Regions from separate parts of the Homo sapiens genome. Here region 1 is linked to region 2. A link means that fine-mapping ties the variant in region 2 to the expression of a gene that starts in the linked region. Tissue or cell type: whole blood. Region 2 holds a variant in brackets; the other region holds the start of a gene. All regions are shown on one strand. Distances are between the middles of the regions.

Evidence for each region. PIP is the estimated chance that this variant, and not a neighbour inherited with it, causes the effect.
Region 1: EXOSC10 starts here. The variant in region 2 is fine-mapped to the expression of EXOSC10 in whole blood (TOPMed, PIP above 0.99).

The regions. Positions count from the first base shown.
Region 1 is chr1:11,096,499-11,102,359 of GRCh38, reverse strand. It overlaps EXOSC10 (exosome component 10), which reads left to right and starts at 2,491. Exons shown (of 25, transcript NM_001001998.3): 1 at 2,491-2,639; 2 at 4,204-4,340. The coding sequence starts at 2,529. EXOSC10-AS1 (EXOSC10 antisense RNA 1) reads right to left here and starts at 2,685. Exons shown (of 2, transcript NR_135062.1): 1 at 2,546-2,685; 2 at 255-559. RefSeq lists enhancers at 2,202-2,762, 3,052-3,111, 2,763-3,325 and a silencer at 2,949-3,150.
Region 2 is chr1:11,075,322-11,081,182 of GRCh38, reverse strand. EXOSC10 (exosome component 10) reads left to right here. Exons shown (of 25, transcript NM_001001998.3): 11 at 1-101; 12 at 271-419; 13 at 634-684; 14 at 1,361-1,472; 15 at 3,532-3,582; 16 at 3,740-3,818; 17 at 4,235-4,341. Among named protein-coding and RNA genes, the nearest start is that of SRM, 18 kb to the right of the region's middle. The variant A/G (reference allele first, on the strand shown) is at 3,611.

The DNA.
Region 1 (5,861 bases), 21 kb before region 2:
TTTGTGACCTTGGATAAGTTACGTAGATTCTCTCTGCTTGTCTCCTCTGAAAGTGTGGGTAAGCCCTACCTTGTGAGGCTGTCTGAAAGACAAGATAATCCATGGAGGAGCATTTAGCACAGCCTGACTGACATGTGGTATTAGGTTGAACCACGTGAAATAGGTCCTCAAAAATACTAAATGAACTAGGCGTTTGTCCTGCCAGAGTACCTGTGTACCTGAAGCACACACACGGAAAAAGTGAAAAGCAAGTATTCTCTTAACTGGATATGCTGAACATTTATTGAAGACTTAATGGGTGGAATGAATTGTATTAAGGGCATCCCATCTCTAATTTCAGGAGAGTGAATCTATCTCTTGAGCTGCCTGATAATTCGGTGCCTCCCTCACAAGAGCTCTTCCAGGAGTTCACTTCACAAATGTGTACTGAGTTCCCACTCTGTGTTAACCAGAATGGTTCCAGCGATGTCTGCAGGAAACAACGTCTGCTTGGAGGAGTTCAGAGGGTACTGGAGGGAGGAAGCACAGTTGGAGCTAGACGCTTTCTTCAGGAGCTTACCTGTAAAGGGCAAGAGAGAGATGATGGCAGTTGGAAGGAGATGTGGGAGCCAGTGTTTTTTCCTTTTCTCTTTTAGTTGGGAAAGATGTCAGTGTACTTGTAGGCTGTTAGGAATGAACCAATAGAGAGGGAAAAGATAGATCCAGGGGGCAGGGGAGGTGTAATTAATTACAGGAGTCAAGACCAAATGGGTGAGGGGAACACAGAACCAGCCAGAGCTTGGGAGGAGGTGACTTTAAATATGAGGCTGGGCCGGGCACAGTGGTTCCTGCCTGTAATCCCAGTGAGGTGGGAGGACGGCTTCAGCCCAGGAGTTCGAGACCAGGTTGGTAAGATGCAGTCTAAAAAAAATAAGCCAGGCGCTGGTGGCGCACACCTGTAATCCCAGCACTTCGGGAGGCCAAAGCAGGTGGATCACTTGAGGTCAGGAGTTCAAGACCAGCCTGGCCAACATGGTGAAACCCCATCTCTACTAAAAATACAAAAAAAAAAAAAAAATTAGCCGGGCATTGTGGCACACGCCTGTAATCCCAGCTACTTGAACCTAGGAAGCGGAGGTTGCAGTGAGCTGAGATTGCACCACTGCACTCCAGCCTGGGCAGCAGAGTGAGACTCTGTCTCAAAAAAAAAAAATAAACAGGGCAGGCACGGTGGCTCCGCCTGTAATCCCAGCACTCTGGGAGGTCGAGGCGGGAGGATCACAAGGTGAGGAGTTCGAGACCAGCCTGGCCAATATGGTGAAACCCCGTTTCTACTAAAAATACGAAAAAAATTAGCCGAGCGTGGTGGTGCACGCCTGTAATCCCAGCTACTCGGGAGGCTGAGGCAAGAGAATTCGTTGAACCCGGGAGGCGGGAGGTTGCAGTGAGCCAAGATTGCGTCACTGCACTCCAGCCTGGGCAACAGAGTGAGACTCCATCTCAAAAAAAATAAAAATAAAAATAGGCTGCACGCTGATGACTCGTATCTGTAATCCCAGCACTTTGGGAGAGCAAGAGTGAAACTTTGTCCCAAAAACATGGTTTTTTTTGTTTGTTTGTGACAAGGTCTCACTCTGTTGCCCAGGCTGGAATGCAGTGGTTCGATCTCGGCTCACTGTAACCTCCACCTCCCGGGCTCAAGCCTCAGCCTCCCGAGTAGCTGGGATTACAGGCATGTGCCACCACGCCCGACTAATTTTTGTGTTTTTAGTATAGACAGAGTTTCACCATGTTGGCCAGGCTGGTCTCCAACTCCCGACCTCAGGTGATCCACCCGCCTCGGCCTCCTAAAGTGCTGGGATTACAGGTGTGAGTCACGGCGCCCAGCCTCAAAAACATAACCTTAAAAAGAAATTTTTGAGACAGGGTTTCATCCTGTCACCCCGGCTGGAGTGCAGTGGAGCCTCCACCTCCTCGGCTCAAGCAACCATCCCACCTCAGCCTCCCGAGCAGCTGGGACTACAGATGCGCACCACCACTCCCGGTAATCCCGGTTTGTTTGTTTTTTAAATTTTTAAATAAACACGAGGATAAGCGGGGATCGTGGCCCTCGCCTGGGGTCCCTGCTACTTCGCAGGCTAAGGTGGGAGGATCTCTTGAGCCCAAGAGTTCGAAACCAGATTGGGCAAACCTCGTGTCAAAAATATATGTGATAGTCAGGTCCTCCAGGCCGCACCCTAGATCACAGGGTTGTTGGGATGATACAATATGAGGTAAAAGAACGTGAAATTCACACCAGAGCGCTCGAAAGTGCCACCCTAATCGCAGGCTTCCCAACCTAATCGCAGGCTTCCCAACCTAATCGCAGGTGCCCCACCCTAAACGCAGGCTTCCCAACCTAATCGCAGGCGCCCCACCCCAATCGCAGGCTCCCCACACTATAATCAGACGCCCCGCCCGCCGCTTCGACCTGGCGCATGCGTGGTGCGCACGCGTCCCGTCTCCTCGGCCGACAAGCTCTCGCGAGACGAGCCGTGCAGGCTGAAAAAATGGCGCCACCCAGTACCCGGGAGCCCAGGGTCCTGTCGGCGACCAGCGCAACCAAATCCGACGGAGAGATGGTGCTGCCAGGCTTCCCGGACGCCGACAGCTTTGTGAAGGTGAGTTCGCGGGGCCTCGGGGGTACCAGGAGTCGCCCGCGGCCGCCGGAAGCCGACTGGGCCCTCTGGGCAGCCAATGCCCGCCCGCCGTAGTGGAGCCCGAGCGAGGGTCGCGGGGCCCCTGTCCGCGCTGGGCGCAGACTCTCCTGCACCCTCCGGGGATGGGGCCTCGGAAACGGACACTGAGGGGCGTCCCGCTTGCGAGCCTAAGTCCATGGAGGCCCAAATGTGGAAAGCCGTCTCGCATCCTGGGAAAGGCTTCCTTGCCACCCAGACGTCCCTAGCCCTTGCGACGTCGCGCTCGCCACGCCCTAGCCACCCGACCAGCTCTCCGCAGGGGCTCGGCTTCTTCGCGCTCCCCACACTTGCCTGGAGTTGTCTCCTCCCGCGGCCAGTATGGCCCTTCTCTTCCTCTGTTTCTGAAGTCCAGTCCTACATAATTTTTAACCCTGAGTTAAATGTCACCTGTTAAAGCCCCATTGCACGTTTATTAGTAACTCCTGGAAGGTATACAGGGCGTTCACTTAAGATCTTTGTATAACTTAGCTTAAATATGAGCAAACGTACAACTAGGCTTAAGGTGTGCATAGCTCTTACAAAGCAATGAAACTAAAATAATTTGTAAATTAACCCTATAAATTTACAGAAATTCCACTAACGTTGTATCTTATCTAATTTGCTGTTAGCTAATGCTATTGATTCATTAACATGGCTCTCAATAGTTCCTGGACCACTAACTGTGGTCCTGGTTGTGTGGCGGTCATGCTCATAAGCTACCATGTTCCCCTCCGTGACTTAATTTCCCACCTCCTTTCTCTGCTTTTTTCTTGGGAAATGTTTATTCACAAAACTCACAATGACGTTTTAGGCCTTCACATGATCAGCCATCATTTATGTCACTTCACGGCTTTTTTTCGTTACCTCACAACAGTTAAAATAGAGAACCACTTGACACTAACTGAACAATAAACACAAATCCAGTTTTAGATAGTAGCTGTTATAAATTTGTCGTCCAAGGATCTAGGATAAGCTTGTATTGTTTTTAGATGCTCATCCAGATGAAAACACAAAAACAAATTCCTGTAGAAAGCTCTTGGATCTGAACTTGAGTCGTAATAATAACGCTTATGTGCCAAGAACTGTCCTAAGTGCTTTTATTAGCTTATTCATTCTGTCCTCACAAAAACTCTGTGGTGCAGGCCCTTTTTATTTTTCCTGTTTCTCAGAGGAGAACACTAAAGTCCAAATAAAGCAATCACTTGTCCAAGATCTCAGTTAATACGTAGCAGAGTCAAGATTCAACCCCAGGTATTTGTGAATATTAATCAGATTATATACGTATGTATTCTGTCTCTCAACTCTCCCAAGAATATAAGCTCCAAACTTGGTTTCCTGTTCAGTATTGTATTCTCAGGGCCTAGATTAGATTGGGGTTTGGCACTAAATGAGTGCTTTTTTTGATGGATGAAGAGTAGATACCTTGTATACGATAGATCAAAAAAATGACATACCAAATGAATGGGGATCCCTGTGTAAACATGCCATCTTTTCTTGTTTTTGACAGTTTGCTCTTGGGTCCGTGGTGGCAGTCACCAAGGCATCTGGGGGCCTACCACAGTTTGGCGATGAGTATGATTTTTACCGAAGTTTTCCTGGCTTCCAAGCATTTTGCGAAACACAGGGAGACAGGTTGCTTCAGTGGTAAGTACTGTACTTTGTTTTCTTGTGTTAGTGAAAAGAAATGAAAACAAAGAAGTAGATAAATTTTTCCTGAAATTTATTTTTCCTTAAACATTTTCTGTGGTATGAAGAGCTATAAAATGTGAAAATTGAAGCAATGGATTTTGATTAGGGAAATATTACTTGGTATATTTTTAGTTTAGCCTTTAAAAAATGTATTGACTTTTGTACTGAAAAAATATATTGACTTTTGTACAAATCTTTTTTAATTAAATGGGACGTGAACACTTAGAGCCAAGATTCTTTTTTTTTTTTGAGACGGAGTCTCGCTCTATTGCCCAGGCTGGAGTGCGGTGGCATGATCTCGGCTCACTGCAAGCTCCGCCTCCCAGGTTCACGCTATTCTCCTGCCTCAGCCTCCTGAGTAGCTGGGACTACAGGTGCCCGTCAACACGCCCAGCTAATTTTTTGTATTTTTAGTAGAGACAGGGTTTCAACATGTTAGCCAGGATGGTCTCGATCTCCTGACCTCGTGATCCACCTGCCTCGGCCTCCCAAAGTGCTGGGATTACAGGCGTGAGCCACCGCGCCTTGCCAGATCCAAGATTCTTTCCCACAACTTGTAGAGTAGCAGGTATTTTTATTTTTATTTTTATTTTTTTTGAGATGGAGTCTCGCTCCATCACCCAGGCTGGAGTGCATTGGCTCAATCTCGGCTCACTGCAACCTGCGCCTCCCAGGTTCAAGCGATTCTCCTGCCTCAGCCTCCCGAGTAGCTGGGATTATAGGTGTACACCACCACGACCAGCTTTTTTTTTTTTGTTGGGGGGGAGTACGGAGTCTTGCTCTGTCGCCCAGGCTGAAGTGCAGTGGCGTGATCTCGGCTCGCAGCAACCTCCACCTCCCAAGATCAAGCGATTCTTGTGCCTCAGCCTCCCCAGTAGCTGGGATAACAGGCATGTACGACCATTCCCGGCTAATTTTTGTATTTTTAGTAGAGGAGGTTTCACCATGTTGGCCAGGCTGGTCTCGAACTCCTGACCTTGTGATCCACCCACCTCAGCCTCCCATAGTGTTGGGATTACAGGTATAAGCCACTGCGCCTAGCCAGTTTTTTGTATTTTTAGTAGAGATGGGGTTTCACCATGTTGGCCAGGCTGGTCTCGAAGTCGTGACCACTCCTGAAGTGCTAGGATTACAGGTGTGAGCCACTGCGCCCAGCTAGGGTGCAAGTTTTATTGGTTTCATCAAAAAGTATCAGGGGCCAGACATGGCGGCTCATGCCTGTAATCCTAGTGCTTTGGGAGGCAAAGGCAGAAGGATCGCTTGAGCCCAGGAGTTCAAGACCAGCCTGGGCAACGTAGGGAGACTCCATCCCTACAAAAAATTTTTAAAGTAGCTGGGAGTGGTGGTGCACCACTCCCAAGTCACAGCTACTTGGGAGGCTGAGGTGGGAGTATCACTTGAGCCCAGGAGTTCAAGGCTACAGGGAGCTGTGATTGTACTGCTGCATTCCAGCCTGGGTAACAGAGCAAGACCCTG
Region 2 (5,861 bases):
ATATCTATGACAAAATGAGGCTGGAGATGTGGGAGCGCGGCAACGGGCAGCCGGTGCAGCTGCAGGTGGTGTGGCAACGGAGCAGGGACATCTGCCTCAAGGTACACCTCAGCCGCAGTCACACAGACCGCGACACTTGGGCTCTGTGTCTGGCCAGGTTCTAGTTCTTAGGTTTGCTCCTTACATTCATGAAAAGAGCCAAACATTTTCCAGAGCCCAGGGCACAATTTTGATTCCCGTTGATTTTGAATGTTCTCTAATACTTTGTAGAAATTCATCAAACCTATCTTCACGGATGAGTCCTACCTTGAACTCTATAGGAAGCAGAAGAAGCACCTTAACACACAGCAGTTGACAGCCTTTCAGCTGCTGTTTGCCTGGAGGGATAAAACAGCTCGCAGGGAAGATGAAAGTTACGGGTAAGGGATTAGAGGTTCTTTTAATACTTGTTTCCAGACTGAGGAGATCTAATAACAAGTAAATAATGGGCTTTTTTCTTTTGCTATGAAAGCTGGTTATTTCCCCTATGTGACAGCATCTAATGGAACTTACTGGCTGAATGTAATGTGTCCCCACCGTGTGTGTGTGTGTGTGTGTGTGTGTGTGTGTGTGTGTGTGTTTTTTTTTTTCCAGATATGTACTGCCAAACCACATGATGCTGAAAATAGCTGAAGAACTGCCTAAGTGAGTTTCAAATCTGATTAATATGTTCTGACTTTCTCAGTAGATCTGATGTTCTTCAAAATCAAGCTTTTCTGGTTGCTATTACCCAAGGCTGCTTACTCAGAGATTAATGCTCCAAGCTTGGAAGGTAGCAAGTTGAAGGAATATAGAATTTCTGCCCTCAGGCTGCCATTTAAGCACTAAAACTTCTGAACTGGAATCATTTCAATGATTATGCCTTAGTTTGAGTTTATTTTAAGTCTCTGAGCCTTATAGCATCTACTTGCAAGGGAAGAAAATGTCCCAGATTCTGTCATCTGTACTTTCTTCCAAATTAAAGCAGCTCATGATCTTAAACGTTTTGTGATCTTGATTGAAGTATAAGCAAGAATGAAAATCCACAGCCCGTTGGTTGCCCCCTGCGGAATTGAGAATCCACAGTGCTATGGCACTTACTTTCAGCTCTCCCTGATTGTGGGAGTCAGGCTCCAAGAGGGATCCACTTAAAGCTTGGTGTCGCAAAGAACACATGGAGAAGTTGGCCTAGGCTGGCCTGACATCAGTGTTTCCTTAGTCACCTACCTGTAGCTTCAGCTTAGGTGGCAGCCTGGCTTTACCCAGTCATTATTCTTATCTGGAAGCCTTTAAGGGCTGCGTTTCTGAGTGACAAGTTGAGTGTGTTCTTACTTGTCTTCAGGGAACCTCAGGGCATCATAGCTTGCTGCAACCCAGTACCGCCCCTTGTGCGGCAGCAGATCAACGAAATGCACCTTTTAATCCAGCAGGCCCGAGAGATGCCCCTGCTCAAGGTAAGAAGCTTTTCTGCGGCTGGGCACAGTGGCTCACGCCTATAATCTCAGCACTTTGGGAGGCTGAGGTGGCTGGATCATTTCAGGTCAGGAGTTCGAGACCAGCCTGGCCAACATGGTGAAACCCCGTCTCTACTAAAAATACAAAAAATTAGCCAGGCGTGTGGTGCACGCCTGTAATCCCAGCTACTCCGGAGGCTGAGGCAGGAGAATTGCTTGAATCCGGGAGGCGGAGGTTGCAGTGAGCCGAGATCGCGCCACTGCACTCTAGCCTGGGAGGCAGAGCGAGACTCCGTCTCAAAAAAAAAAAAAAAGATTTTCTACTGAAGGGTCCCAACTTAGCAAGCCTGTTTTTTTTTTGTTTGTTTGTTTTTTGTTTTTTTTAGACGGAGTCTCGCTCTGTCTCCAGGCTGGAGTGCAGTGGCATGATCTCGGCTCACTGCAACCTCCGCCTCCTGGATTCAAGCAGTTCTCCTGACTCAACCTCCTGAGTCGCTGGGATTACAGGCATGCACCACCACGCCTGGCTAATTTTGTATTTTTAGTAGAGGCGGGGTTTCACCATGTTGGCCAGGCTGGTCTCGAACTCCTGACCTCAGGTGATCCACCACCTGGGCCTCCCAAAGTGCTGGGATTACAGGCGTGAGCCATCATGCCCAACTTTAGCAGGCCTGTTTTTTCTGCTAGTGTCTTATTCCTTGTGGCTTCCTAGATTCATGAGCTGGTCTGCATTCTAAACAACCCTAGGGAAATAATAGGGCTTAGGAAATCCAGTGTGTGTGTCTTGATGAATTTAGCTGCTTTTTTTTATGATAGTTGAGAGCTAAGACTCTTTATTTATGACCTTAGCTTTGATGATTCAGCAGCAAGTACTGTCTGGTAACTGGGCCAATTCACTGTTCTAAGGCAGTTAATGTGGTGGAGTGAGATGGAGCGGTGACCTCAGCAGAGGGAGCTAGTTTTGGGAGCCTGGCGATGGCCCAGATGTGAAGTGATAGCTCCCTGAATGAGTGAGGAATCACACACTGAGAAGGAAAGAACAGGTGTAGGAAGCATCAGAAGAAAAGATTGATGAGACTTCGTAGCAAATGCTGACAATGGCAGCCAGTTTTCTTTTGTTTTTTTTGTTGTTGTTGTTGTTTTGAAACAGGGTCAGCCGGGCGCGGTGGCTCACGCCTGTAATCCCAGCACTTTGGGAGGCCGAGGCGGGCGGATCACGAGGTCAGGAGATCGAGACCATCCCGGCTAAAACGGTGAAACCCCGTCTCTACTAAAAATACAAAAAATTAGCCAGGCGTAGTGGCGGGCGCCTGTAGTCCCAGCTACTTGGGAGGCTGAGGCAGGAGAATGGCGTGAACCCGGGAGGCGGAGCTTGCAGTGAGCCGAGATCCCGCCACTGCACTCCAGTCTGGGCGACAGAGCGAGACTCCGTCTCAAAAAAAAAAAGAAACAGGGTCTTGCTCTGACACCCAGGCTGGAGTGCAGTGGTGCAATCATGGCTCACTGTAGCCTCGCATCTGCTAGGCTCCCACCTTAGCCTCCTGAGCAGCTGGGACCACAGGCATACACCACCATACCCAGCTATGTTTTTTTTAATTTTTTGTAGAGATGGGTCTTGCTGTGTTTCCCAGACTGGTCTTGAACCCGTGGGCTCAAGCAGTCCTCCCACCTCAGCCTCCCAAAGTACTGGAATTACAGTTGTGAGCCACCTGCCAGCCCCACATTTGCAATTTTTGTGTTAAAAATGTCTTTGTAAGCTCTGTACTTTGTCCAAGTAAAGAGAGACCTTGATTACTAGAGAAGAGTCTTTTTCAAGCTCTTTGGAATCCTTCCTATTGTGCTTAGTCATGTTAAAGAGCTTTATTCTTTCATTCTACAAATAATTATTGAGCACCAAATAATTATCATGCCAGGCACTGTAAGGAGTGAAGAGAGGAAAGAAAATCTCTGGGCTTTTGAGAAACAGGCTGGTGAAGGAATACAGTCAGCGCTGGAGACTGGGGGTTGGACTTGAGGTGCTTGGGCAACTTTCCTCAATTCCCTTCGTTTTTTTCCTTAGTCTGAAGTTGCAGCCGGAGTGAAGAAGAGCGGACCGCTGCCCAGTGCTGAGGTAGAGTGTCGGATCTGTTTTCTCCCCC[A/G]GGAGGGAAAACGTCAAGTCACAGCCAGTGCAAGTACACCTCTGACAGAGGCCTGTGCTGACAGCTGGCAGAAAGCTACTGCCGGCTTGCACGTTTTACATGCCAGCCTGCTGGTGTCTTTTAATGCAGAGATTGGAGAATGTTCTCTTTGGACCTCACGACTGCTCCCATGCCCCTCCGGATGGCTATCCAATCATCCCAACCAGTGGTAAAGTCGAGAGCCCTCCTGACTGTCCCGAAGAGGTTGGGACACAGCTACCTTGTCTAAAATTCTGTAGGCTTGGCCGGGCGTGGTGGCTTATGCCTGTAATGCCAGCATATTGGAAGGCTGAGGCGGGTAGATCACCTGAGGTCAGGAGTTTGAGACCAGCCTGGCCAACATGGTGAAACCCCATCTCTACTAAAAATACAAAAATTAGCTGGCATGGTGGTGGGCACCTGTAATCTTAGCTACTTAGGAGGCAGAGGCAGGAGAATCACTTGAACCGAGGAGGCGGAGGTTGCAGTGAGCCGAGATTGTGCCATTGTACTCCAGCCTAGGGGACTACACTAAAACTCCATCTCAAAAAGAAAAAATAAACAAAATTCTGTAGGCTTTGACCTTACTATCTTCTGCTCCTCTAGGATCTGTGCCAGTTCAGAAGCAGGCGAGCCTCTTCCCTGATGAAAAAGAAGATAACTTGCTGGGTACCACATGCCTGATTGCCACAGCTGTCATCACGTTATTTAATGTGAGTAGCACAGAAACTTCACTGAGGTGATGAGGACCCCCTGGGATTTACTGGATTTATTCAGCAGGCTGTCTGCCTGGAGCATTGCATACACTCGGAGACTAATGCTGAGAGCAAAACCCAGCAGTGCTGGGAGAGGCATAGAGACCAATGAGCAAGGTGGCACTGACCACTCTGGAGGAGGTGGTCTGGGGACGTGGATGGGGGATTCTCTTGAGCTCTGTGTGAAGAAATCTTCCAGGAAAGGCTGACGTCCTGTTGTTGAACAGCACCTAGTGGGAGGAGGGCCTGCGCTAAGAGAACATACAAGCAGGGCTTTCCAGACAAGCTGCAGTGGTGGTGGAGGAAAAACGGTTCACCTGGATGCCCAGCAGGGGTGGCATGGGTGTACTGTCCGATGAACTGTAGAATGTGCGCTGCCCATAGCTTCCTGCCTGACCCCAGCACCACATATGTGTGCTTTCAGTGAAGAAGAGAAATGATTTTTTTTTTTTTTGAGACAATCTTGTTCTGCCACCAAGGCTGGAATGCAGTGGCACAATCATGGCTCACTGCAGCCTTGACTTCTGAGGCTCAAACGATCCTCCTGCCTCAGCCTCCTGAGTAGCTGGGATTACAGGCATGAGTCACTGTGCCCAGCTATTTCACTTTTTTTGTTTGTTTGGTTTGGTTTTTTGAGATGGAGTTTCGCTCTTGTTGCACAGGCTGGAGTGCAGTGGCATCATCTCGGCTCACTGCAACCTCCACCTCCCAGGTTCAAGCGATTCTCCTGCCTCAGCTTCCCTAGTAGCTGGGATTGCAGGCGCCCGCCACCATACTTAGCTAATATTTTATATTTTTAATAGAGATGGGGCCACTATGTTGGCCAGGCTGGTCTCGAATGCCTGACCTCAGGCGATCCACCCACCTAAGCCTCCCAAAGTGCTGGGATTACAGGCATGAGCCACCACACCCGGCATTTTTTTTTTTTTTTTTTTTTTTTTTTTTTGTGACAGGATCTCATCCTGTCACCCAGGTGGGAGTGCAGTGGCACCATCCTGGCTCACTGCAACCTCTGCCTCCTGGGCTCAAGCAATCCCTCTGCCCCAGCCTTCTCTCGAGTAGCTGGGACTACAGGTGTATGCCACCATGCCCAGCCAATTTTTGTATGTTTTGTAGAGGTGGGGTTTCACCATGTCGCCCAGGCTTCACTTTGGTTTTTAACTTAATTACATAAATCTAGATTGGGCCTTGCTTTAGCAATTAATGAGAAAATACTAGGCGCTTTAGCTGACCTCAGAGCTAATTTGAGTCATGAAGATGATTTAGCAGCTAAGCGTGTTAGCATGAGCTCTGGGCTGCTTTGATACGGAAGTGCTGTTTGGTGTAAAGGAGGCTGTGGTCTCCCTGCACTCTTGTGTTGCAAGGGCGCATAATTACAGATGAAGCAAAAGGATAGCACATATTTATGAACCCAGTTGGAAGCAGCATTTTGTTGCATAATTTCAATGATTCCCTATAAAGATATGTAATACTAAATT